4 linked regions of the Homo sapiens genome follow. The protein of the gene in region 4 interacts with the protein of the main gene of each other region in a biochemical or structural test. Each region holds a gene or a part of one and is shown on either strand. Other genes may lie near its edges.

Region 1 (5,971 bases), on a different chromosome or scaffold from region 4:
CTGCTGGGAGGTTCAGGATACCTGCAAATGCCTCACTCCCTCAGCTGCAAGGAGAGACTTCTCCTTTTTATTCGTTTCTAAAATGTGCCTAATCAATACGGTGGAACTCAGCATACCAAAACTGTACGTGAGGATGATGGGGAAAAGGGGGTAAGGGGGTGTTCACTGACAGCCTTATCTGGGCACATCCCCTGGGACAGGACAAGCAGGCCAAGGACCTAGGAAGGAGCACAGGAGGCAGATGGAAGAGGCCTGAGGGAACCTGTGCTTGTTTGCCAGTGTGAGATGCCCACGCAACTTCCTGTCTTCACTTCCTCTTACCAGCACCTACAGGACTTGGGCTGCTTCAGGCTGAACGCTGGGAGACCACTTCCTGTGCTGACACACAGAGCTCCCATCTCCATGAAGACCGCACAGCGCGTGTAAGCCAGCCCAGCTGACCTAAAGCGACATGAGACTACTAGAAAGAAACGACACCCTTCCCCAAGCCCCCACAGCTACTCCAACCCAAACAACAACCAAGCCAGTTTAATGGTAGGAATTTGTATTTTTTGCCTTTGTTCAGAATACATGACATTGGTAAATATGCCACATGCCTTTGGTGGAAGTACAACTGTTGTTATTACTCTATACAAGTATGAGATCAGGGTTAGGAAAAAAAGACAAAGAGGTGATGACAGACACACAGTGGAAACCCCACATCGTCTCATGGCAAACCGAAGAACGGGATGTGGGAAGCTCAGCTTCATTTGACTGCAAAGTCCCAGGGTTTTGTTGCACATTTGCTCATGCACATGGGTGGTGGGAGGAAAGGGGGATAGCAGAGACACACAGAAGAGGGTACAGGGTGGGTGAGAAAGAAAGTAGAAGGGCTAATACCCCCAAAGAACAAGGCCAACTACACCTGGTGAGCCTCAGAGGGACAGAAACCCAGGAATGATTCCTGTGATAGGGCTGGGAGAGCCAAGAGGACGGATTCGCTCCAGGCTTGGGACACATCGAGGACAGTGGTGGTTCTTCTCCAGCGGTGACCCCCTGCATTAGGCAAGGAGGAGCCCAGAGGAGAGTGGAGACCTTCGAGGGGGGCCGTTGGGAGGGTACTGACTGCTTTCTTCCAGCTCTTCAGTCCCGCCCTTGGGCAGGACGAAGGGAATGTGGGAAACAAGGGCGAAAGGAAAGGAAGGATGGTTTTGAGCAATGAAATGCTGCTGCATGGAAAGTGGGCATCCAGACCCTGCCCAGCATGGCCTCAGCCTCTTCCTGTTCGTGGACCGAGGGAAGAAGGAATAAAGGGCCATGGGCATTCTCCGCTCTGTTCCCAGCCTGCCCTCCTCCCCTTGCACCTGGGCTTATCCCACATTAATAGCCCATCCTGAAGCTCAGCAATTGCCCCGAAGATAGGCTGAGCAGATCCCATCCTCAGGTTCCACTGTCTATACACACAAACCATGCAAAGAGGAGGAAGAGAAAGGAGGCAAAGTAGAATTCAGACAGGAAAGGGTGGTTCAAAGGGGAATATACTACAGGAAGAACAGAGAGGCGGCTCTCAAGGAGAGGGCCCCATGACAGCACAGCAATACACAAGCACACCTGACACAGGCTGGCACGCCTCCCCCCAAGGTGGGGCTGGTGGGTCTACATGACTTCTCTGCATCCTGAGGATCGGCCGGGCCCCAGGAAGAACCACTTGCCTCATCCCTGTCTTTGGCAAGTGCACGGGTGGTGTGGAGGAAAGGATTCCATGGGTGTCCAAAGATCTCACACTGCTAACACCCTCACGCTCCTTCATCAACAGGAAGAGAGGAACAGGACCCTCTTTAACGAGGGCAAGGAGTGGCTTCCTCTGAGCTTGTTACTTTCAAATTAAGCACTTGACTCACTGTTTCTCTATAACTAACAGGCAATCTCTCTCTTTATGCCAACAATTAACTGGGAGCTAGGTTAAATTATTTGGCTAGATAAAACTACCAGCTAGATGGATTTATTTGGTGCCCTCATACAGAATGCTGTAGAAAATGTAAAGAAGAGAAAGCTCCTTCCAGCTAGAAGCACATGGGACTGCTTCTAGGATGGAAACAAGTCCTGCTATTTTCACAATCCCTAAGTGTTCTCCAGGCCTCTGGAGAACAAAGTAAAGTTGTAAGATCCCCAAAGACACGGAAAATCCTGGACGAACAGATTAGAAATAACTACAAAAAACAAGTTTTTACTTTCGAAAAGGGTACTGCACTGAAACCAAGTTGGACTTTGGTCCACCCCCAGGACCCTCTTCAGGCCTGGTCCAGGAAGGAAAGCTCCACATGACCAGGCAGTACTGAGTGAGCTGCCATCTTCCCAGCCCCTCCCTAGCTCCTACCAGTGGCCAGGTTTTCTAGAAGTCACCATGGGCACCGATACTCTTCTCCTCCCAAGTCTGGGCAGCTTCATGGGTACTTCGCCTCAGCCACTCCCCTCCCTGCCCCTTCCCTTGGCCTCCAACTCTTTGGGGCTTTGGGGGAACTTGAGAGTACAGAAAAAGCAGGCAGGGAGGAGGCGCCAGCTGTTGCTCTTCGGGTAATGACTTAGATTGTGCCACGAGCAGCATTTCTAGTGTTGAGGGACAGAGTGCAAATGAACGCAACGAAAAAGGAGGAATGGGTGATGGAGAAGCCTGGGCTGGAATGGAGGACGGTGGGTGGGGAAGTGTGTTGAGAGAGCAAACAGAGGGCAGAGGACATGAATGTGGATGGCAATGGACAACAGGGAAGGGGTGGTACATTCTCAAGTAAAAAAGTAGACTGGACACAGGAATCAGGAAGTCCCAGACGGAAAAGAGAAAGAGACAGGAGAAAACAAGAGGGTGAATTACACCAAGTTACCAGACATTCAGGTCTCTCCATTGTTAAGTGCCCCATCCCCATGGTCTCCCTCCAACCCAAGCCAGTGACACACAGCATAGCCCCACTTCCTCAGAACAGGAGGCGCCATCTCCCTGCAATGCGTTGCAGGGGGAAGGCTTGTCCATCAAAGAAATCCCTTGTCTCTGCCCTTCCCCCGTCCCGAACCAGGTGACGATCCCATAGCAGCGGTCTCCATACCTCAGTCAGAGCAGCCCCACTCCCCAGGCAGGCAGGCAGGCAGGGAGAAGACTCCAGGACCTTCCCACCTCTTCACCCCACCAGCAACTTCAGCGATACTTACTTACAATAACTACCACGATGATGGCACAGATGGCTCCCAGCATGATCATCATCTGAGGAAACATGGACAAAAAATGAGCCCTTGGATTTCAGGAATGAGGAAAAGAGCCACATCTCTAGTGGGAAACAGAATTCCTTCCATCCTTGGGACAATGGAAAAAACCACCCATCACCCAGGAGACCTGCAGGCCTCTTAGAGAGGCCCTACCCTTCTGCTTCCCAGGGGATCATAACCACAGTATGTCTGTAGCTTTTCAGATTCATCACAGGACCTGCATTGAGCTCCTTTTTGCTTAGTTCCTGGTGTCTTGGGGCTTTAGAAGGCATTCCAATAGAGATACAGACTCTGGATATTTAACCAATTAGTTCAATTTTCACTGTGAAGTGTTCAGCTCATTCTCAAAAGTTGCAGTTATTTAAAAATATATATTTCAATCTGAGAAAGCTGATTTAAAAGAAAAAGAAAAAAGTATATATATATATAAATGTATATATATGTATATATATATATAAATGTATATATATGTATATATATATATAAATGTATATATATGTATATATACATATGTGTATATATAGTGTGTGTGTGTGTGTGTGTGTGTGTATGTATATATGCCTGAGCCATTGTGCTGATGTTGGGTGTGTCTGAGGATGAGACAGGTGAAATTTTTTGCAGGCAACTCCTTTGGGGTAAAGCTCCTTAACTAACCATTCCAAACTCCTCAGGGTATCACTTTTTCCCTGATAGCGGTTCTAAATACTCTAGCCTACCCTGGTGGCCAATTCTGGGTAATGCAATCTCAAGAGGAGGCTTTCCAGATTTCCTCCCAAGCGTTATGCTGGTCAGAGAGATCCTGCACCATTAGAGGGAAGAAATGTAGAAGCTGAGGGTTTTCTTGCCTTCTACCAGTGGAAGCCCAGGAAAAGATGGAGGAGGGGACAAGAAAATTCACCTTGCAGTTTTTCCACCAATACTTCCTCTTTAGCTTGGCAGCACTGCTCTCAAATTGTGATGCTCCTGCCTGCAAGGCATCAGCTCGGTCATCCAGCTCTGACAGCTTCTGGTCCCTCTCCAGGACCTTGTCCACGTTCACACGTATGATGTCCACCACCTGAGGAGGGCACAGAAACAAAGCAGCTAAGCTTCCTGCCAGAGACAGAGGAAAGGACAACAACCAGAGAATCACAAGTCTGGCCCTGTGCAACTCTAAAGGGTGCTTTGCCTCTCAGGGCCTTTGACTATTCTCCTACGAAAAAAGGAGAAAAGATAAGAAGTTCCCTTTTGTTTCCAAACTCCTAGATTTGGAAACTTTCAGAGAAACAGCTATCTACCTACCTCCTCCACTTGTGCCTGGGTTTGCTGTAGTCGTCTGTTACTGGTCATGTTAGGAGGAGGGCCAGGGGGACCCCCACCTGGGGCAGTCCCTTCTGTCCCTTCAGCAGGTGGCTGAGCTGGAGCAGACCTGTGGAAAGACATGTGCAGAGTACACAAAGTGACCAAGACAAGAAAGGAGCTGGGCGTGGTAGCACACACCTGTAGTCCCAGCTACTCAAGAGGCTGAAGTGGGAGGAGCGCTTGAGCCCAGGAGTTCGAGGCCAGCCTGGGCATCATAGCGAGACCCCATCTCTAAAAAAACAGACAAAAAGAAAGGACTCACATGCATCCTCACCCCAAACCACTTAAACAATTATGATTAGGCTATACAAAACTAGAATGGATTCTTGCTCCTTGGCAATCTGAAGTAGGGAGACAAACCATAGAGGCAAGAAGTAAAAGATGAAAGACTCTGCAACAACATTTGGATGGGGTTCAGGGACATCCAGGATGGCATCAAGACATCTCATCTGGGGCTATCCTTTGACTCAACTCAAACAAGTCCTCTGCCATGATGGCTACAGGGACATATGGCCTAGCCTTGTCCTAAATGGCATTTCCCCGCTGATATGGTTTGGCTGTGTCCCCACCCAAATCTCAACTTCAATTGTATCACCCAGAATTCCCACATGTTGTGGGAGGGACTCAGGGGAGGTAACTGAATCATGGGGCCCATCTTTCCGGTGCTATTCTGGTGATAGTGACGAAGTCTCATGAGATCTGATGGGTTTATCAGTGGTTTCTGCTTTTGCTTCTTCCACATTTTCTCTTGCTGCTGCCATGTAAGAAGTGCCTTTCACCTGCCGCCATGATTCTGAGGCCTTCCCAGCCATGTGGAACTGTAAGTCCAATTAAACCTCTTTTTCTTCCCAGTCTTGGGTATGTCTTTATCAGCAGCATGAAAACAGACTAATACAGTAAATTGGTACCAGTAGAGTGGGGTGTTGCTGAAAAGATACCCAAAAATGTGGAAGCGACTTTGGAACTGGGTTAACAGGGAGAGGATGGAACAGTTTGGAGGGCTCAGAAGAAGACAGGAAAATGCGGGAAAGTTTGGAACCTCCTAGAGACTTGTTGAATGGCTTTGACAAAAATGCTGTTAGTGATATGAACAATAAGGTCCAGGCTGAGGTGGTCTCAGATGGAGATGAGGAACTTGTTGGGAACTGAAGCAAAGGTGACTCTTGTTATGTTTTGGCAAAAAGACTGGCAGCATTTTGCCCCTGCCCTAGAAATTTGTGGAACTTTGAACTTGAGAGAGATAATTTAGGGTATCTGGCAGAAGAAAAGACGCAGTACTAAAGAAAAAAACCATTTTTTTGAGAAGAAATTCAAGGCAGCTGCAGAAATTTGCATAAGTAGCAAGGAACCTAGTGTTAGCCCCTAAGACCATGGGGAAAATGTCTCCAGGCCATGT
Region 2 (7,030 bases), on a different chromosome or scaffold from region 4:
GTACATGCCTGTAATCCCAGCTACTTGGGAGGCTGAGGCAGGAGAATCGCTTGAACCCAGGAGGTTGCAGTGAGCCAAGATCACACCACTGCACTCCAGCTTGGGCGATAGAGTGAGACTCTGTCTCAAAAAAAAAGAAGAAAGGCAAGTCACTGAGGCTGTAGAAAAGTTTTTGGCAGGGAGCTGGAAAGGAGTGGGGAATCTGGGATAGGCCAGCACAAGGAAGGAGGAAAAGCCTGTCCTCACCTTGAAGCTAAAGCCACTCTGGATGCGCCTCTGGATGCTCTCATGCTCAGCCAGCTGACCACAAAGCACCGCATACCTAGGGGGGAAGCAGCAAGCTCAGGGACAAGGGCTGAGTACCATCACTGCAAGGAATGGATGCCCCAACCACAGCCTAGTTGCATTGTCCCCTATCCCTGTACCCTCAACTAGAGCTGAAAATACCTAATTTTCATCTGTACGTAATCCCCATTCTTTACGGACCTCTGGCCCCAATTAGTATTCTTTAGTAGATAATGGTAGGCTTACAAGTCTCCAAAGTATTCTAGGTATAAAAAAAGCTGGGTTCACCACAGTAAATCTCTCTTACACAGTAAATCTCTCCTACACTCATAAGGAGTACAGCCACAGGCATTAATAAAAACTTGAAAAGCATGAAAACAATCAGCATAAAAGTATGAGACCTGACTATACTACTTATCTTCTGGGCAGACAAAAAAGTGGGTCTCATTAGCCTTTAAGCATACAGGTGTATCACTGGGACTTGGGAAGCAATTTCTTAGGATAGTCACATTGGGAGGGGATATTCTAGGAATTTCTGATGTTACTTGGAAACCAACAGAACCAGAGGAAGAAAGACCTCCTATATATGCCTTCTCCCCCACATCCCCCCTCCCAAAGGGAACCAGCCAGCCAGCTTCCCATCATCTGTCTTCAGAAACAAAGTCTTACTTCCCCATCCCCCCAGCATTGTTCCTAGCAGCACAGTTGACATTCGATGAGTAACCAGCCCAAGTTGCTTTTTCATGTATATGCTAAGTATCCGGGGGGTATCAGATACTTCTAGAGGCTCATTTCCATGTTTAATCCAAACAGCTGTTCCTCAGGAATAGCTGTTCATCCTTGGAAGCCCAGGGAAGCAGTGACACCCAAGAAACAGTTACCTGGCCTCTGAGAAGAACCCTTGCAGAGACAAAAGTTTCAGCAACAGATGGAGAAACACAGCCTCTCACTTAGCTCACAGTCTGAGGGTGGAGACATGGAAAGCAAGGGTGGCGGTGGGAAAGGAAAGGAACATTTTCACTAAAACTCAGGTGCTGGAACCAGACCCCAGGATATGAGTTAGCCGTGGCCCAGGTAAGCTGACAGAACTTTGCCTCACATGAGACCACAAAAAGGGCTGATGTTTTTGCAGCCTAATAAATTGACCACTAAACTTCTGGGGGGTGAGCTCACATCTACTTTTCCTCACATGAACCAAGCAAAGAAGCCAAAGTACCAGCAGCCAGGGATCACACGCAGGGGAAAGAAGAGCTTATGCAGGATAGGGGAGCTGCAGATTGTCCCAGCCTCCTGAGAGCCAAGAACTCCAGTTTTGTAGCTAGGATGACTCTTAACAAAGCTACTCATTTCTCCAAGCCCCATCAGAAAAAAAGCTTGTATTCCCCGCTTGCCTCATCCCTAAGCCACCTCCCCTACCAGAAACTTCCCTTGTCTCTGGCTAGGGGTAGACTGAGGCATGTGGAGATACAAGCCAGAACTCCCTCTCCTGGATCCTTTGGAAAATGCCTCTGTGGCCCAGGCAGAGAAAAGAAAGGGCTGTCCTCTGCTTTGGCCCTTGCTGGCTCTTCCCAGAACACTGCAGGGTGTTATTACCACAGGTGACAGTCAGCACTCTCATCCCCCTTCTCCAGAGCAGCCTCTGCTTCTTCTTTTCCTGTAGGACGAAGGTAGATCCAGAGTTGACATAGCTCTTATGCACACTTTCATAGGAAGGCTTGTGGGAAGAATGACTGCTTTAGCTCTCACCAATCCCTACCCAGCTTGGACTTGTTTGGAAATAGTTGTGAACTTGAGCAGAATGAAAGGCCGCAAAGAAGCCAGTCACAGTGGCTCACGCCTCTGTGCTGTGTAATCCCAGCACTTTGGGAGGCTGAGGCGGGTAGAGCGCCTGAGGTCAGGAGTCGGAGACCAGCCTGGCCAACACAGTGAAACCCCATCTCTACCAAAAATACAAAAATTAGCTGGGCGTGGTGGCAGGCGCCTGTAGTCCCAGCTACTCAAAAGGCTGAGGCAGGAGAATCGCTTGAACCCAGGAGGCAGAGGTTGCAGTGAGCCGAGATTGCACCACTGCACTCCAGACTAGGTGACAGAGCAAGACTGTCTCAGAAAAGGCTGCAAACGGCTTCTAAGGGAAGACTTCAGGGATGACTTCTGCTTCACCTTGGCTTCCCCATCTGTCATTAGAAACCCCAGTTACCTTCTTTTTATAATGCCCACCTGATGTGCTTGAAGCAGATTTTAGCATTTAAAATATAAAAGGATCCAGCCAGGCACGATGGCTTATGCCTGTAATCCTAGCACTTTGGAAGGCCGAGGTGGGTGGATCACTTGAGGCCAAGTGTTTGAGACAAGCCTGAGCAACATGGTGAAACCCTGCCTCTACTAAAAATATAAAATTAGCCAGGCATGTTGGCACATCCTGTAGTCCCAGCTCCCCAGGAGGCTGAGGCAGGAGAATCACTTGAACCTGGGAGGCAGAAGTTGCAACGAGCCAAGATTGCACCACTGCACTCCAGCCTGGGCGACGAACTCCACCTCAAAAAAAACAACAACAACGGATCCAACACAATCAGAAATTGTCCCCAACAGACCTTACTCTGGAGGGGCAGTGTCCATGAATCTCAAGTTGTATAAAATTTAAGTAAGTGGGGAGAGAGATCACAGCTTTGAAAAAATTCCCTAAAGGGGATGGGTACATTGGCTCACACCTGTAATCCTAGAACTTTGAGAGGCCAAGGAGAGGATAGCTTGGGACCAAGAGTTCAAGACCAATCTGGGCAACATAGGCAGACCCCATCTCTTTAAAAAAAAAAATTCTCAAAAGGATCCACGATCCAACAATATTAATTAGCTCTAGGCCAAAACTCTTTCACAAGAGCCACATGGACTGAGGTCTGACCAGAGATGACGTTCACTTAGTCTTACCCGAGTTTTCTAGGTTAGTGTTCTAACAAAGAAATGAAAGCCCATAAACATGAAAGTTCTGACAAGCGTCACTTAAGAGTATCGAGGCTGGAGCTTACGGACCACCAGATAAGGACCATCATGCCTATGCACTGGAGAAGACACTGCAACATAGGATTTTTTTTTTTTTTTTTTTTTTTTTTGAGACAAGAGTCTCACTCTGTCGTCCAGGCTGGAGTGCAATAGCACGATCTAGGCTCACCGCAACCTCCGCCTCCAGGTTCAAGTGATTCTCCTGCGTCAGCCTCCCGAGTAGCTGGGATTACAGGTGTGTGCCACCACACCTGGCTAATTTTTGTATTTTTAGTAGAGACAGTTTTGCCTTGTTGGCCAGGCTGGTCTCAAACTCCTGACCTCAGGTGATGCGCCCACCTCAGCCTCCCAAAGTGCTGTGATTACAGGTGCGAACCACCGTGCCCAGCCAAGAATTCTTTGAAGAAAACAAGTTTGGAAGGGAACATGGAGAAAATGGAACAAATGTAATGCATTGAGGTGGTAAACTGGCTAATCTGAAATGTTTTCCTTTTTTTATTTGAGACAGGGTCTCTCTCTGTTGCCCAGGCTGGAGTGCAGTGGTGCAATCTCAGTTCACTACAACCTCTGCCTCCTGGGCTGAAACAATCCTCCTGCTGGCATGTTCCACCACCATGCCTGGCTAATTTTTTAAGTTTTTTTTTTTTTTTTTGTAGAGACAAGGTCTCACTATATTGCCCAGGCTAGTCTCTAACTCCTGGGCTCAAGCAATCCTCCTGCCTTGGCCTCCCAAAGTGCTAGGATTATAGGCATGAGCCACCACACCTGGCCACAAATGCATTCTTAAGACAACTGATGCTGTGAAAGACTCTACCTCTCTTCCCAAAGAGAGGGACCACATGGCCCCACCAATGAGGGACGCTGCCTCTTTGGGGATTTCTCTCTGCCCTCTTCAAAGTACTGTCTCACTAGGAAAATAATAGCAAAGAATGAGACAACTAGTTCCTGCCAAGCTAGACAGACAGTGTTGTAGACAAGACATTGCCTGAGACCCCACAGAATGACTGCCTCCTGGTGGTCCAGCTCCTAGAGATACAATGAAATAAACTTTATACCCAGTAAGGATAATTCTTAAAGGCTGTGATCTCAGAGCAGAACCTTCAAAGACATTCCATAGTCATCTGACCTCCAGCAGGTAAAGCTTTGTCCATGGGTGCTAAGCTCAGGAGGCCAGACCAACCAAGTGCTGCCCTGCTAACCACTGCCTCCACTTCTGTCTTTGGGGTTCATGCTGGCTACTAGCACTAATAAGAGATGACCAATGATCAAGAGGGAAAGGAAAGGTTGTTGACATGAAGAGTCCAAAAATCAGCCCAAAAGCTGAGAATCCTCATCTGAAATTTAGGAGGGAAAACAAACTTTTGGAGAGAAAAAGTAATCATAAATAAGCATCTTTTGTTAAAACTTCCAGGAATTTTTCTGAGGGTCTACAGAGACATCCTACTCAATTGGTCTGTTCTTTCTCCATTGACAGAATTCTACAAATGTTTAGAATGTTAACTTTGAGGTACTGTTTGAGTATACATTATCAAGGATTCAATAATATTTGTAAGGCTGTACTTACAATAGAAAGGTAGACAAATCCATTTTAGACAGTTAACTGGCCAGGCACAGTGGTTTATGCCTGTTATCCCAGCACTTTGGGAGGCCTAGGTGGGTGAATCAGTTGAGGCCAGGAGTTCAAGACCAGCCTAGCCAACATGGCGAAACCCCATCTCTGCTAAAAATACAAGACTTAGTCGGGTATGATGGCATGTGCTTGTAATCCCAGCTACTGGGGAGGCTGAGGCAGGAGAATTGCTTGAGCCCAGGAGGTGGAGGTTGCAGTCAGCCGAGATCAGGCCACTGAACTCCAGCCTGGGCAACAGAGAAAGACTGTTTAAAAAAAAAAAAAAAATAGATATTAACTGAACCACAGACCTAGAAACCCATTACCCATTGATGGTACCTGACTCAGTGTGTGGAGTTCAGCAGGACACATCAGTCTCTAAAGTCCAAGCATTCTCTGACCTCATGACAGATAAGGCCAAGCCCTGAGCCTGGCACAGGTCAGATGCACCCTATCCTCCAGGGTGGAGCCTTTGCCAACAGACTTGCCAAGTGGATTCCAGAGTCTTCTAAGCTAGCTATATTCTTAGAACACCTGCCCCACCAGCTCAGAAAACTGAAACCAGATTTCTAAGCAGCAGCAAAAAACCTCAGGTTAAGAAAAAAGGTTTTGCCCTCTGTGGCTAGAGTGAGAAAAACGAATAACATTGATAGGATACAACTACTCCTAGAAACACATGCACGTGTGTTACTAATCAGCATGATATACAGATAAGCAAAGACTGCTCTCTTCTTCCAGAGGAGAAAGCAAGGGTCTTTGGGAGCCAGAGTTTGTCCCTAGTGGGTAACTGAGCCACAACTGCTGACAGCATCTTGGTGGTTCCCCGGGTCCCCAGGCAGATGGGCCAGCCCCACCCCTGAATCAGTCAGTCACCTTCCCACAGGAAGCTGTCAGCACTTACCATCTAGGGCATATGACTTCTTCTCGCTCACCTCCTCAGTGAGCTCACACATGTCACTGTAGGCTCGGGCCAGGCGCCAGAGAAAGTCCTGCCGGCTTCCATACTGCAGACCAGACAGAAACGGGTGAGGCCCCTTTTTCCTCAACTGTGGAGAATGGGGGCCTTGGCCTTCCCCCACACCCTAGGTTTGAATTTCCAAGCTAGTATGTTACAGTCATCAATATCAGGCCAGCTCCTACACGCAGCCTTCCCCCCAGTCATCCCTTCCCACGTGCAGTTAATGTATGACACATTCTCTGTCTAGCCAGTAGCTTGCACAATTACGGGGTGAGGGCATTCTGACCTCCTAGAACTGCTGGGAGGAAAGGTCAACTCCAAGATGTCATAAGGCACGAGAGGTCTTTTGCTGACACATGAAGAAAGTGTGAAAGGAAAAGGGAAACTTCTAACTTCTGGGGGGGGGGCATTTATACCTGGGTGGGCATATATTCTGTCAGTGAACCTGACAAGAGAATTATGGTTGAGTGACCTACACAGTTGTCGCTTGTAATGGGGCTGGCAGCTTGGACTCTGCCTCAAGGGAAATGAGGAGAAAAAAAAAATACAGTTCTTTCCACATTTCCCCCTAGAGGTGAGAGGTAGAGCTCTTTCTGCAGTAGCTCTACAGAAAGCAGAGAACTACACTCCCCCTCCCAAGAGGGGAGGCAGCTCTGGGGCAAGCAGTACACTGGCCCTAGGATCCACGCTGGGCCTCCTTGGAAGAGGATATGTGACCTGGGGGACAGATGCAAAACCAGCTGTCTCACCATTTCTCGTCCCATGTCACCTTGTAGGGGCAGTAACCACACGGGCCTTCATTCCCCAGGGGTCAGGAACAGAGAGATGGAGGGAGGGAGGGAAGGAGAAGGAGACAGGCAGCTGGAGCCTCACCACCAGCTTGTTGTTGAGCAGCAGCTGGAAGCCCTCCCGCTTGCCTTGCTCATCACCCCTGTGCAGCTCGTCGGCCTGCTGCAGGAGGGGCAGCACATCCTCCAAGCCTGAGGAACCTCCAGCCTCCAGGGCACTGGAGGCACCTGAAGCTGCCTCTTCCTCCAAGTCAAGAGAATCCTTTCTCCCCATCTTCACAGTCTCACAGCTCACTTCATCTTCCCCGTCCTCACTTTCTTTGTCAGAGTCCCGCTCATTGTCAGACTCCGCATTGGCTGTTGTGTAACTGGCAGAGAAATGTAAGGGACAAC
Region 3 (7,030 bases), on a different chromosome or scaffold from region 4:
AAACTCTTCTCCTTCTCGCTCTCGCATAGTCTCTGCCTCTCGCCTCAGTTCTTCGTTCATTTGTTCTTTTTTTTGATGATATCTGGCCTGGCAGCAGGACTCCAAGTAGATCTCATCAATCCCCCAGTAATCAAGTTCTTGGCCAAACGAAAGTGCACACATTTCTTCCATCATATGGAGTTTCCCGGTCCGGTAGAAATTTAAAATGGAAGTGAAGGCTCCTGGATGCCGATCAAAGAAATACTCGTTCTCGTTCAGATTATAGTCGTCGCACACTTCCAGGAGGCTCTCGTGTGTGTTGCAGTCTCGAAGCTTCCCCAGGCGCGTCCTGGGCAGCCTGTCCAGCGTTCTCCACAGGACTTCGTGGTTGAGGCCCCCCACATTGATCTTAACTCTCCTGGAGCATGTTTTGCTCCGGATAATGTCCACAGGCTCTGGAGGAAGGGAAAGTGTCGACCTTGAAGTCTTCCTGTTTAAGCCCGGGGGAGCCTTTTCTGCCATTTTGAACTGGACAAAGCCGCAGAGCCAGGGTCCTTAAAAAATGAGGTCAACTGAAGCAATATCCCTCTGGGGCAGGCATTTCCACTGACAAAGCTGGAAGAAAGCAACAATCACTTGGTTACTTGCATTTTCCTAGAGTGTTTCTGTTCTATGGGATCATTCTGTTGTAACAACCAGAAGGTACAATATTAACGACTGAATACAACCAGAAGGTACAATATTAATGTCTACATACTTTTGGAGATATGTGTCTTTGCTTTAGGATATAGGAAAGGGGGAAAAGACAACACAGTGTACTACACAGAAGAGGTTGTGTATTCAGTGATATATACCTATAGGCTGGCAACTCCCAAACATGTCATGAGAGACCTCTTTCTCAAGCTGCAGACTAAAAGATCCATGTGCTTGATCAACTCTTTTTTTTGAGACAGGTCTCTCTCTGTGACACAGGCTGGAATGCAGTGGCACCATCACAGCTCACTGCAGCCTTGATCTCTTGGGCTCAGATGATCCTCCCACCTCAGCCTCCCAGGTACCTGGGACGTGCCACCACACCTGGCTAATTCTTATATTTTTTGTAGAGATGGGGTTTCTCCATGTTGCCCAGGCTGGTCTTGACCTCCCAGGTGCAAGCAATCCACCTGCCTCAGCGTTCCAAAGTACTGGGATTACAGGGTGAGCCGCTGCACCTCACCCTGATCAACTCCTTCTAGATAAACCACAGACATCTTAAGCTAAACTGACCAAGGTGCCAGTCTGCCCAACCAGTTCCTGATCATTCTCCGTCTCAGATTTACGGCCTTCCCCACCCCATACCCGGTCACCCTCACTAAAACTCTGTGAAATCCTGATCCATCCATCCACATCCAAATAAGCACCAAGTCTTACCAATTATAGCTCCTAACCATTGCTTAAGGCCTCCAACACTGTTACCAAGGTTCCCATTACCACAATGCTGGTTCGAACTCTCAGCATCACTTACTTGCCTAGACTTCTTTTCCTTTCTTTCTTTTTTTTTTTTTTTGAAATAGAGTCTCACTCTGTAGCCCAGGCACAATCTCAGCTCACTGCACAATCTCAGCTCACTGCAACTTCTGCCTCCTGGGCTCAAGTGATCCTCTCACCTCAGCTTTCCAAGAAGCTAGGACTACAGGCTTGCACCACCATGCCTGGCTAATTTTTGTATTTTTTTTTTTTTTTAGAGACAGGGTCTCACTATATTTCCCAGGCTGGTCTGAAATTCCCAAGCTTAAGCAATCCGCTGGCCTTGGCCTCCCAAAGTGCTGGGATTACAGGCATGAGCCACCGTGCCCAGCCCTTGCCTACACTTCTAATACAGCCTTAAATTGGATCCCAAACTCGGGTTTTGTCCACCTAAAAACCATTCTCCACATAGCTATTAGAATGCTCTGCTAAGATACAAATTTGACCTTGCCACTCACATGCTTTAAACTCTGCAAAATGTCATCATTATTGGAATTTTATTTTTGAAGTCCTACCAGCACTTTAAAGCCTAGTTAGTCCTAGTAGGTCCAGCCTCCTCTCCACCTTCACTTTTCATCTTTCCCTCATCATTATATTCCAGCAATCCCAGACTGCACACAACATTCCCTTTTAAGCTCCTGGCCTTTCCATACTGTGTTCTAGAAACATTTTTCTTGTTTCCTTCTGACTAACTAGTACTTGCTTTTCAAGACTCAGCTCAAACCTCACCTTCTAGAGAAAGCTCTCCATAATATTCCCACTCTGGGATCATGAAACTTCCACCATACCATTGCAACATACCTTTCCCATAGTATGCTGGGAACTCTTGAGGACAAAGAACATCTTCTCTATTATTACATTCCTATCACCAAGCACAGTGCTTATACAGTGTAGGAGTTTAATAAATATTAAACAGTTAATCCATTCTTTAATTATTTTCCACAAGAGAGCTGACCAAAGTAATATATGTGGCCAGAAAATGCAAAAATGGAGTTATTGGGATCAATTATTTAAAATGCATCTGTGTTTATATGTTATGTGTATATAATATACATCAGAATGTGTGTGTGTGTTGTGTGTGTGTGTGTTGTGTGTGTGTGTGTGTATTCTGCTTCATGGCTCTTTTCTCCTGTGTGCTAATTCTTTAAAGCATTACTGCTCTTGTAGTCCCTCTTATTGATCTGTTATTCTGATCTGCAGCAGCAAGCATCTTCTTAGTTATCTTCCCCTATAATGTTTTTGCAGAAAATCATAGAGCTTCAAGCAATTCATCCAAAATACCACCTTTAATGTAAAACATCATGTTTCACACAGTCAACAGCTTATACTAAAGGGAAAAACTATTAGATTTAAGAGGTCCTTATAATTAGAACTCTCTTCTAGGATACACACCAATTTCTGCATGCCTCTGGCTTCTCCATCCTGCAAGTTAAATTTATTTATTGTTCTGGAGGCGAAAGATTCTCTTGAATGAATATAAGTCAAGGTAATGAAAAATGTAGATGGACTATATAAGAAGTACTTTAAATGTGGCCAATAAATATACTTGCAGCAGGAGTTTTTTCAACTACAGAGTTACAGGAATATTTTAAGCATATATATATATATACACACACATTTTCATCACACATGACAAAAATGCTTATCTTTACAAAAATAAGAAGCTCTATAATGATTGACTAAGCAACTTAAATTCTCTGGGCTTGAATTTTCTAATCTACAAAATAAAGATAATAGTATCTATTTCATGTACAGTATTATGATGATTAGATGAGATTGTTTATGTGAAATGCTCATTACAAGGAGGTATATCTGAATAGAGTAAGAATATTCATATTTCTCCCTAAAGTTTGGTTTCCAAGCACTGAAAGAAAACTAAGATTAAAGCTATATTAGTGTCTATTAAATAAATTCTAGCTTTTAAGTTTTCTCTTTACATATATGTTCTGTCTTTCCCATTGAATTATAAAGGCAGGCCTGGGATTGTGGGTCCAAACTTTTCTCTACTGAGCCCTCAACCCACACATAACAGGCACCTCATAGCATCTGTCTTTGGCGCCACTGATGTTCATGTCCTAACTTTATATTCAGGTGATGATGAACTATATATATATGTTAAAAATTGAGCAACACTATCAGGATGAGGCAAAAACAGCCGAAAATATTAGAGATGGGGCAATTCCAGTGATGAATCTGAATGTGGAGTCTCCACTAAATAACTTAGTTGTAGGTACACTGTCATCTCAACAATCAATCATTGAATTGTCCACATAAATAAACTGTGAGCTGATGCATTTTGAATTTGAATACAAATAAAAATAAAATAAATGTACTCTTTTTGAACACCATGTTTTATACTAACATGAAGAAGATAAATCATTTTTTAACTGATTATAATATCAGATAAGAGGTTTTCCAGGAAGAGAACTAACTCCAGAATGACACAAATATCTCATTTGTTTGTGGCAAAGGCATGGTGTGACTTGCTATTTTGAAAAAGTCATTAAAAAAGGAAATGCTATATCATAGTCACTGGTAAGGTCACTATTTGTCTTAAATAATTTCATGTGCATTGTGTATAGTGAATTTTCCTTTTTGTAGGGTGTGTGTCTCAAGAGAAGAGAGGTCATAAGACTTAACTTTCAAAATATCTTCTTCACTGATCAAGAACTTTCTATTATAAGAGATCCAGTGTTGATTACAAGTCCCGCAATAAAAGACAAACTGAAATTCACTGCCCTTTCTTCATAGCAGGGATAGAGAAAATAAGGGTGAGAAAATTCCCTGTTGATTTGATTTTCTTAAGACTTAAAAATGATCTGCTCTTATTATTGTTACCATGGTTAAAAGATTTTTTATTCTCCCTGGGCAGAATGTTCTGCTTGTTACCTGATAAAGAGTGCAGGCTCAAAGGCATAAGTTCCTGAGCAGTTGAAGAGCTGTGAATAGTGTTCCAAAAGTTAATCAAGCCTTCAGAATAAGCCCATAATAAATGCAAGCTGCAGAGCATCAGCCCTGATCAACAGTGCCTTTGAAACTCACTGAGCCTTTCTGCTTGCCTGCTTGCCATTTTCCCTTCTATCTCTTCTTCTGTGGGTTTCTCTTACCTTCCCCCATGTCTGTTAACGCCACATGCTACCTTTCTTCCTTTGCTTTCCCTCCTTTCCTGTCCTGATCCCTAGATCTTTCTATCCTCACAGCCACTTAAACAAGCACAAAACCAAACTATTTTTTCAGACTTGTACATACTTCATTAAGTTTTCTGTAGCCAATCTTAATACAGAGGCCTCCTAGGCTGAAAATACCTTCCAGGAGATAAAAACATCTAAACAGAATTGGAGGTCATATGGGATCATAAAAGGGGCTCTGTCTGAGGCTCAGAACACCTCAGTTCCACATTGCCCTCAATTGCTAATTGAACTTTAATTTCTTCACCCATTAAGTGGTAGCATGTCCATGCCTAAAATTCTTTTATTTCCTATGACACTTAATTTTTTCCTTTCACTGTGATTCTGCCCCTTTTACCTCCCTATGCCCTCTAATCATCATCCTTACTTTAGATAGAAATAAACTTATCATGCTGCCTCACAGTCAATGAAACATTTTCCATGTCTAGTTTCTTGAGGAAGGTGGTTTTCATATTTCATTTCAAGAACCTTTACTTTAATATTTATCATGGCTTGAAACAAACTACCTTCAGAACATCATGAATGTTTCATTTATTTTATTTAGTGTTTAGTTGATTTTCTATCCTTTAACTTTTCATTTTAAATTTATGTCCTTTTCTGCCATATTAATTTTACTTCTAGCAATGAATCTGCCAGTTCCCTGTGGGTAAGGGTATTGTGTTTTACGACCCTAGAGTGTTCACAAAATTTATGTTTTTAATTTCCGTAATTAAAGTGTATATGATGTTACATTTTCTCACATATACTTTCATAAGTGAATTTATGTCTATCATAATGATTTTTTACCCCATAAAATTAATCATGTAGTTCAATTCTGTATATAAGTATAATATAAAATGCAATAATTCAATGCTTAAATTGTGTAGATATTATGCAACTGTGAATAATTTATAAACATAAATTGTCAGTATAAACAGAAGGCACTTTTGTTTGAGACCTCAGAACACATGTTTTCATGTCAAGGGCAAAATCTTAGTGAATATTTTCTCTTGGCAGTTTGTTGATTTATTTCACCTCATTCAATCAATTGAAAGTTAAGCTTGCTACAATCAGTCAGCCAGTGCAAATGTACTCACCATCCCTTCATTAGTCTTCTAGAGAAAAAAAAGCAGCTCTGTAAACAATAAACAACAACAAACATTTGAGTTTTGCACGGCTGCACCCTGCTTCTACAGCAGCGTGGCATTATGCTGCCACCCGCTCAGGGCCAAAACTGACAAAACACAACTTTCTCATCATGGCATCCTAATTACAGCTTGAGGCTCCAGGTTTGGAGGGGGAGTGGGGTTTACTGTAGTCTCAAAAATACTAGCATTATGTCATACACTTGACACTTCCTTCATGGAGCCAGGCAGGGTAAGTCACATGTGCGATCCTGTGAAGATAAAAAGCAAACCTTTCTAAAGTTGTAAGTGATGTTTAACATTTCATTTTTGTGTTGCTAGAACATGCTGAGCAGGCACTGCAAACAAACATCTCTGAGACCTTTAAGTCTGTATCACTCCATATATAGCTCTAAGGCATTTTCTTAAATTTTCATGTATAGCATTAAGTAGTAAGTTTCTGTAGAAACTATGTTTCAAAGAACCACAAGATGATTTGCAGTAGATATCTGAAGAGAAAGGCATTGTAACTGTTAGCTGAAGATTAAATCAATGTATATTTTTTAATTCTATTGTTGGCTGCAATTTTTGAAAGCACCTCCAAAATTTACTAATAAAAACCAATAACATTATAGCAAGTTAAAAACTATCATTCATATATATATATATGTATATATATATCCATATATATATATATCCATATATATATATACATATATATATAGATATAGATATATATATATATATATATATATATATATATATATAAAAGTAAGATCCTGGAAATTTTCAGCTATTCTAAGAAATTCAACAAACCTGCAACCTGCATTACTTTAGAACCTGGTCAGAAATATTTAATAAATTTCATACTGCTTATTATTTTTTAACACATAAAGTTCTAGAAATAACTGAAATGCTGTCCTTGTCCTTAGAAAGTGGAAGGTGACATTTCTTTTCTGCAATCAAAGGCTGCTAATATCATTTTGTTCCTCAAATTTAGCACAACTATATACTCCTTAGTTTAAAAAAAAAATAGAACTTTTTTGGGAGGCCAAGGTGGGCAGATTATGAGGTCAAGAGATCGAGACCATCCTGGCCAAAGTGGTGAAACCCCATCTCTACAAAAAATACAAAAATTATCTGGGAGTGGTGGCGCACACCTGTAGTCCCAGCTACTCAGGAGGCTGAGGCAGGAGAATTGCCAGAACCTGGGAGGCAGAGGTTGCAATGAGCCGAGATTGTGCCACTGCACTC
Region 4 (7,030 bases):
AACTAAGTAATAAGCATGTTGAAAACGACATTATACTTGAAAACCACCTTTTGCTTTGAGAAATACATGATGGACAAAATAAATTTCTCAGGTAGGTAGGTACACTGGGTGTCAGCAAAATGGCAATTAATACTGAAGCCCACATTTCTCAAATCGCCTTTTTGCGATGACAGCTCATTTATTCACAAGTCAAAAATCTTTAGTGGTATTCCAGCAATCCTAACTTGACAAGCAAAGCTTTTATGCAATTTTTTTTAAGCAATACCTAACAGTGACTCCTGCAGTTTAAAGAAAAATAAGTATTTTAAGTTCCCCTGTATTGCTGAAGTCAAGTCTTAATTAAATCTACTTCATATCTGCCTTTGGCATTTAAAAACCTACATAAAGCAACTGTCTGGCCGATGATTGGAGCTTGAAAAAAACTACCATGCCAGATCTCCACCCCAGACCAATTAGGTCAGTATCTCTGGGGGTGCTATTCAAGCAACAATTATCTTTTATGTTCCTAAGCTCATCATGAGTTAAGGTACTGCTATAGTTGAATATCACTACTACAAAAGTTATCTGAATAACTTCCTATATACTCTCTTTCAAGATGGGTGTTATACATAGCAACAACTGGAAAACAAGAAACTGAGTTTTAAAACAAGAAATGTGGCAACAGGAGGATATGCATAACTAGAAGGGAATTGTCAAGAGGCCAGGCCAATCAAATGTTACATTATAAAATGTCCATAACCTTAAGAAAGTTAACTATAAAAACAAAGCAAAATGCTTTTAGTCACATTTATACTTGGTTTTCAATAAACCACAGAAATTAAGCTGGAAAAAAATAGGATACAACTTATAATTAGTGATTATGCTTAAAGAACATTAATATTACAGGGAAATGAATGAAATGTTCCTAGCAATTGATGCTGCTGAAAGGCAGAATTTGGAATTTTTTATATTTTCCAAAAATTGCCTGAAGTGCACACACTGTGTCAGAAGGGCAAGACAAACTTTCTTTTTCCTTAGTGATATATGTTTATACTTCTTTGCACCAACCCACGAGCGGCTGGGCATTCATTCCCAAGATGCCACTGCTTACGCGAAGAAGCGTGGTGGTAGTCTACCAAAAGTGGGGCTATGAAACGTGGCATGAAAATCAGCTGTTCTCACTTCCTACTAAAAAATAGTTAACTCCATCTCACTAAGCAAGAGACTATCTGCCATCAGAATTCAAGTCCCAGTGATTAGCTATTAATGCTTAACAGGATATAAATGCACAAACCACACAATCTGTTGAAATTTTTTTTGTATTGTGAAAAGGAAAAGGACACTTCACATTTTTAAAGTTTATTCATGAATGGTTTAATTTCCCTTTAAAGCTAGAAAATAAAGATCATTTACCTTCTGATCTTCGTTTTTCCAAATGGTAATAAGCATTGATCCTTCCCTCGAATAAAGGTGAAATTTTTAAAATCTCAGTGAATAGGAATGTGCAAAGCTCTAAGAAAACTATTACTTGAATGTCTCTAAAGTGGTAGAAGATCACAAGTTGGGAATACCCTCAAAAACTATATTTTTACCCTACTGTTAAAACTTGTTTTCAAAGTGGTGTAATCTGAAAGATTACAGTTCAAAAGTAATTCCCATACCAAATAATATCAACTTTAGGTGAACATCTAAGTATTTAAGAGTATTATTTTTCTTGGCTGGGTGCGGCAGCTCACACCTGTAATCCCAGCACTTTGGGAGGCCGAGGCAGGCGGATTCAGGAGTTTGAGCCCAGCCTGACCAACATGGTGAAACCTTGTCTCTACTAAAAATACAAAAATTAGCCGGGCTTGTTGGCTCACACCTGTAATCCCAGCTACTCAGGCGGCTGAGCCATGAGAATCACTTGAACCCAGGAGGCGGAAGCTGCAGTGAGGTGAGATCACACCACTGCCCTCCAGCCTGGGCAACAAAGCAAGACTCTGTCTCAAAAAAAAAAAGAAAGAATTACTTTTCTTTGATCGGAATTTCTGAATTTCATACATTTTTCTTCCAAGTGTCATTTTTTTTTAAGGGAACATACCACACACTCAGAACATAATGACTTAGCTTCTTGTAAATATAAGAATGGGGGAAGTTAAGGTACATTAGTTATAGAACGAAGGAAGCTAGTGCATTCAGTGTCACATATGAACTCAAGGCCTTAGTTACTTGATTGTAATTTCAGTATTAGCAACAGTGTATTTCCCTCATGCTTACATATACAAGTAAGCAGGCAGACAAAGCAAAAACTTCTAAACATATAAGGAATGAAGACAAACAATTTAATCTCTATATTATCATATTATCAGTCAATTAATACAGTTGGACTTTCAAACTATAACTGTTGGTAGTAAAATAATCTGATCACATTTCATACAGCAATTAAAAATAACAGAAACAGAGTCTCACCTATACAATCAGAGCATCTCCTGATATGAACAACAGTTAAGCCCACATACATTTTAAAGATGCTACCCAGACTACAATCTATCTCAAAAGCAACCATGGCATAATGCATTTTATAAAATGCCTACCTAAAAATACATTGTATTTTGTAATGTTTATTACCAATGTGGGAGGCATTTCTAGCCTAAACACTATAACCAAACTATTCAACAGTAAGCCGGTAGTAGTCTTACAATAAGAAATTTCACATATACTTGTTATTATAAATAGCATTTTATGTTCATTATTTCAGCCATCTCTCAAACTAAGACAATTTTCAACAGTTACCAGAAGACACTGAGCTAGAGTCAACAGACCAGATATCTAGTTCCAGCTCTGCCTCTACCTACCTGTGAGACACGGGGAAAGTTCTCTTAACCTTCGTAAGGCCTCAGATTTCTCAACCATAGAACAAAGGGGCTGAACAAAATGAATTCTAAAGAGCATTCCCATAAAACGGGATTTGGCTAAATTTTCAAGAACTTAATTTCTTTAAAAAAAGATAGCTATGAGATACCAAACTTGGTATTTACCACCAATAATATTGATTATATAAGAGCTTTAAGCCAAGGAATTACTGATTCTGCATTTATGGGGTGAAAATATAAGACTATTTTTAGCATGCTTTTCCAGTTACCAGAAAAGGGGAGAGGGGGATTTTTACAAAGACAGTAAAGCATACAGCAATGGCAGTAAAGCATGCAGCATAGCATGCTAGTAATGGATAGGCATTACTTGTGTTTCCTTTTAGGAACTTTTGCACACAAGCAAGAGGTTTTATAAAAGATACCACAGCGCCCAATAACACAATATATGTGTGATCTGACAAATTCAAAACACAGTTGAAATGAAAAGGCAACCAAAATACTTCAGAGTACTTCATTCTTCTATAAAATGTGTACACAGACCTGGGCCTAAAATACTTCACTGCACCACATCCAGTTCTAAAATCCAATTTCCTTTTCAGGTAGAGCGCATCTTTTAAAAAAAGAGCCAACACACCTATGTTTAAGAATAAAAATTCACTTGTACTAGATTGTATGTAGCTAAACACTGGATCTATTTTCTGATTCCAAAATTTTCTATCCTAGTATGAATAAATGAAGAATAGGACAAACCTAAGTGCAGGAAAGTATCAAACCCTGTAACGCATACTTATACTGAAAATGTGTTTCACATGGTTAACATTTGCAAAGGCTAAAATCATTTTTCATAAAGAAAATTCCACAGGCTTGCTCAGTATTACCAAACTTCCATAATGAACATTATTTTGAGTGCCAAATTGAGCACGAAAAAAACACCTACTTTTAACTATTATGAAATATTATGAAAAGTAGTAAGACTTATTTATTAGGCTGGTTAAAAAGTAATTTAAAACCAAAGAGAGTTAAATCTTCCTTGAGAACATACTCTCAGAACTTAAGAATGGGGTAAATCAGATGGAGCACAGCCATGCTGTACACATCAACTCACTGAAATCACATAACTTCTATTCTCATGGACCTTATTTTCTATTATCTTGAAAACAAACTGATTATAATCTCCCAAAATACCAGTGGTACCTTAAAATTTAATCAACTCCTTTCCTTAACAGAATTAGGACTTTCAATTAAAAATACTGTAATATCCAAGAGGGTTTCAATGCAAGAGAAACCTTTGCATCATAATTTCAAGTGACCATATATAGTGGAGTTCCCTCTAATAACACGACAGACACAAACAAGCTATCGAGCAAGAATCTGTTAACAGTTTTATTTTTTTTTATGTTAAATACCATGGGACAGGATTGTAAGGATGAAAAACTCAGTCAACAACTGCCTCACAAGGGATAAGAAAAATTCTGCCATGATATTAGCAAAGGTAAAGGAGGAAAAATTTACACTGTAAGAGGCACCATTTCCCCAAGGAATACCTCTTGGCATTTCCTGAATGAGTGGGATTAGCAATCTAAATAAATCATATTTCAAGAGGTAACAGCAACAGATAAAATTTAAAGGGATTATTAAAATAACATTTACAAGACTCTGAACAATTCTTGAACTCTTATTAAAACCACAAAGAAAGAACAATTCTTTATTTATGAATTTCATAAAGGACTCAATGTGCAACTGACATCTGCTAGTGATGATCTGGTAATATACAACCTGTCCAGTAGCCGAACAGTTTGTTTTTATTGTGTTTTCTAACCGTAAGAGATCATTAAAGGCAAAGCCTATATGACGCTGTACACACAAAAAAATGGTCACCGTGGGCCATACTACCAATGAAATGGTAGGTAAACAAATCTTTTTCTGGTCAAGAGAAAAAAAAAAAAAGAAACAGCACTCTGCATGCTTCACTCTACAAGATGAATTTCCCTAGAAAGAATCCAATGAAAATGGCTGCAATTACAACAAGAAGTGAAGGAAGAGGACTGGTGACATTATCTCTGAAGGATGCAGTTGAGGTTGATCCAGGTTTATCCGAATGTGCTACCTTTCTGAGCCTTAAACCTTCATCCTAGAAAAAAAACACACACACAAAAGGTTTTTAAAAACAAGCATACTAACGAGACTACTGGAGCTAAAAATCTATAGGGACGGAAAGTAGATTAGTGGTTGCCTATGGCTGGGGACGGAAAAGGGGATTAACTGCTAACCACATAAGGAAACTTTCCGGGGGTGATAGACATTCTAAAACTGAACTATAGTGATGGTTACAAAGTTCTATGTATCAATGAATTGTACACTCACAGTGGGTGTCTCCATGGGATATAAATTATACCTCAATAACACTGATTTTTTAAAACTGGAGCTGAGAAATGTATTCCTAAAAAGCAAAAGTTAGATAGGCTATATTTACCTTTTTTTAAATCCCACTAAAAATATAATTAAAGAAGAGTACTTCCAAGGTGGCCCATGGTATTTAAAATCAGTTACATCCGTCCTAGCCCAATCAGCCAAAAACTACCCAGACCTGTAGTCTGCCATTTGGGTTTACTGACACACTGCAACTAAGGAACCGGAACAGCAGAGGCACAAAAGGGTGTTCTTGCCGTAAACAGAGATATGGTATCACAGAATTTGGGGGAAGGAAACAGTTTAGCGTGAAATTTAAGTAACAGTGTTTTTATATGCTCAAAGCAAAGCAGAGGGCTGTGTGTAAAGTGGTAGCACCAGGTCTCGACTGCAAAGCAGAGAAAGAATACTGTTTCTTCAGAAACTACAAATTTAGATGAGAAATGTACATAGGAAACCCTTATCTGAAGCTCTGCACCTGGACTGGAAAATGAGGGTGCTTCTCTGTGTCAAAATGACTTAGATCCTCCAGTCAAGAGTAGGCTGCTTCATTCTTGCTGATATGGCTTCACACAGCACTATGTCTTTAGAGCAGAAGGTTTCTCAGAAGAAAGCAGAAGTCACTCCAAGCAGGAGGTTGTTATGACACTGTGTGCAATGTGAACCTTGGGAAAAATACTAATACCTGTTAACTACACAGTTGTCTTTATCTCTGTCTGTTAACCAATCTGATAAATGGCAGGACAGTTTTTTACTTTTTTCAGTACAAGGCAATATTTTCTCCCATGATTCCTTTATTGTGCTTATAAATAAACACTAACTAAAAGAGTACACCTAATGGCACAGTTTTATTTGCATTACTGGATTTTCTGGAGTTGGGTTTTTTTGGTCTCATGCTAATTAGTCCTATATAAACAGTAATTCTCAGTTTCAGCTACACATCACAAACATCTACAGAACTTTTAATACTCCTGTGATTGTGACTCATTAGGTCTGGGGCAAGCCTGGTCAACTGTAACTTTTTAAAGCTCACTAGGTGATTCACATGCAGTGTGAATTAAGAACCACAGGGCTAGGGGAATTAAAAGGGATAGTGAACAGACAGGAGCAAGAAAGTGAACCTGGCAAAAAATTATGGTGGGCCTGTGTATAGGGTCTGAAATTCTGTAAGCCAGTGGGTCTTCAAGGGTTTTGTTTTTTTTTTTTTTTTGAGACGATGTTTTGCTCGTCACCCAGGCTGGAGTACAATGGCGTGATCTCGCTCACTGCAACCTCTGCCTCCTGGGTTCAAGTGATTCTCCTGCCTCAGCCTCCCAAGTAGCTGGGATTACAGGCACCCACCACCACACCCGGATAATTTTTGTATTTTTAATAGAGACGGGGTTTCACCACGTTGGCCAGGCTGGTCTGGAACTCCTGACCTCAGGTGATCCACACGCCTCAGCCTCCCAAAGTGCTGGGATTACCGGTGTGAGCCACCCGCCCAGCCCAGCTTTTTTGTTTTACTTTTCCAGCAGCAGAATCATCTCTCAAATAAAATCTCATACAGAACACTAGCATAAAAAGAGTAGAAACCAGGAATAAAGTCTCTCTCACCTACTTCCCTGGTTCACTCTTCCTATTTTCCAGCCCTGCCCCATCTATGTCATTCTCACTGTTTCCACTTCTCCCCTCCCTGCCAGAGGTAAACAGTGGCTTTTGAAAGAAATCTATTGAGCACCCTAAGGAGCACATCTTTATCAAAGAACAGAACTATGGAAGTCATGGCAGATGAAGTAAAAGTAACC

What was found.
Region 1: the proteins of VAPA (region 4) and VAMP1 form a complex in vitro, tested with the Homo sapiens proteins (one study listed by BioGRID).
Region 2: the proteins of VAPA (region 4) and RMDN3 interact in a test that uses a peptide from one of them, tested with the Homo sapiens proteins (one study listed by BioGRID).
Region 3: the proteins of VAPA (region 4) and KCNB2 interact in a test that uses a peptide from one of them, tested with the Homo sapiens proteins (one study listed by BioGRID).

What each region holds. Positions count from the first base shown.
Region 1 is NC_000012.12:6,461,710-6,467,680, forward strand, and holds the end of VAMP1 (vesicle-associated membrane protein 1), read right to left. Parts: intron 5,396-5,971; exon of another isoform or gene 5,342-5,395; intron 4,643-5,341; coding exon 4,516-4,642; intron 4,292-4,515; coding exon 4,133-4,291; intron 3,233-4,132; coding exon 3,181-3,232; coding exon of another isoform or gene 3,167-3,180; exon of another isoform or gene 2,778-3,166; coding exon 2,761-2,777; 3' UTR 1,261-2,760; coding exon of another isoform or gene 1,250-1,260; 3' UTR 1,134-1,249; coding exon of another isoform or gene 1,123-1,133; 3' UTR 528-1,122; downstream 1-527. Other genes in the region: TAPBPL (tapasin-related protein isoform 1 precursor), read left to right, coding at 325-440. UniProt on the Homo sapiens protein: Involved in the targeting and/or fusion of transport vesicles to their target membrane.
Region 2 is NC_000015.10:40,738,255-40,745,284, forward strand, and holds part of RMDN3 (regulator of microtubule dynamics protein 3), read right to left. Parts: intron 7,006-7,030; coding exon 6,723-7,005; intron 5,974-6,722; coding exon of another isoform or gene 5,896-5,973; coding exon 5,793-5,895; intron 1,940-5,792; coding exon 1,879-1,939; intron 323-1,878; coding exon 247-322; intron 1-246.
Region 3 is NC_000008.11:72,561,206-72,568,235, reverse strand, and holds part of KCNB2 (potassium voltage-gated channel subfamily B member 2), read right to left. Parts: intron 595-7,030; 5' UTR 502-594; coding exon 1-501. UniProt on the Homo sapiens protein: Voltage-gated potassium channel that mediates transmembrane potassium transport in excitable membranes, primarily in the brain and smooth muscle cells.
Region 4 is NC_000018.10:9,951,988-9,959,017, reverse strand, and holds part of VAPA (vesicle-associated membrane protein-associated protein A), read right to left. Parts: intron 4,966-7,030; coding exon 4,807-4,965; 3' UTR 1-4,806. UniProt on the Homo sapiens protein: Endoplasmic reticulum (ER)-anchored protein that mediates the formation of contact sites between the ER and endosomes via interaction with FFAT motif-containing proteins such as STARD3 or WDR44.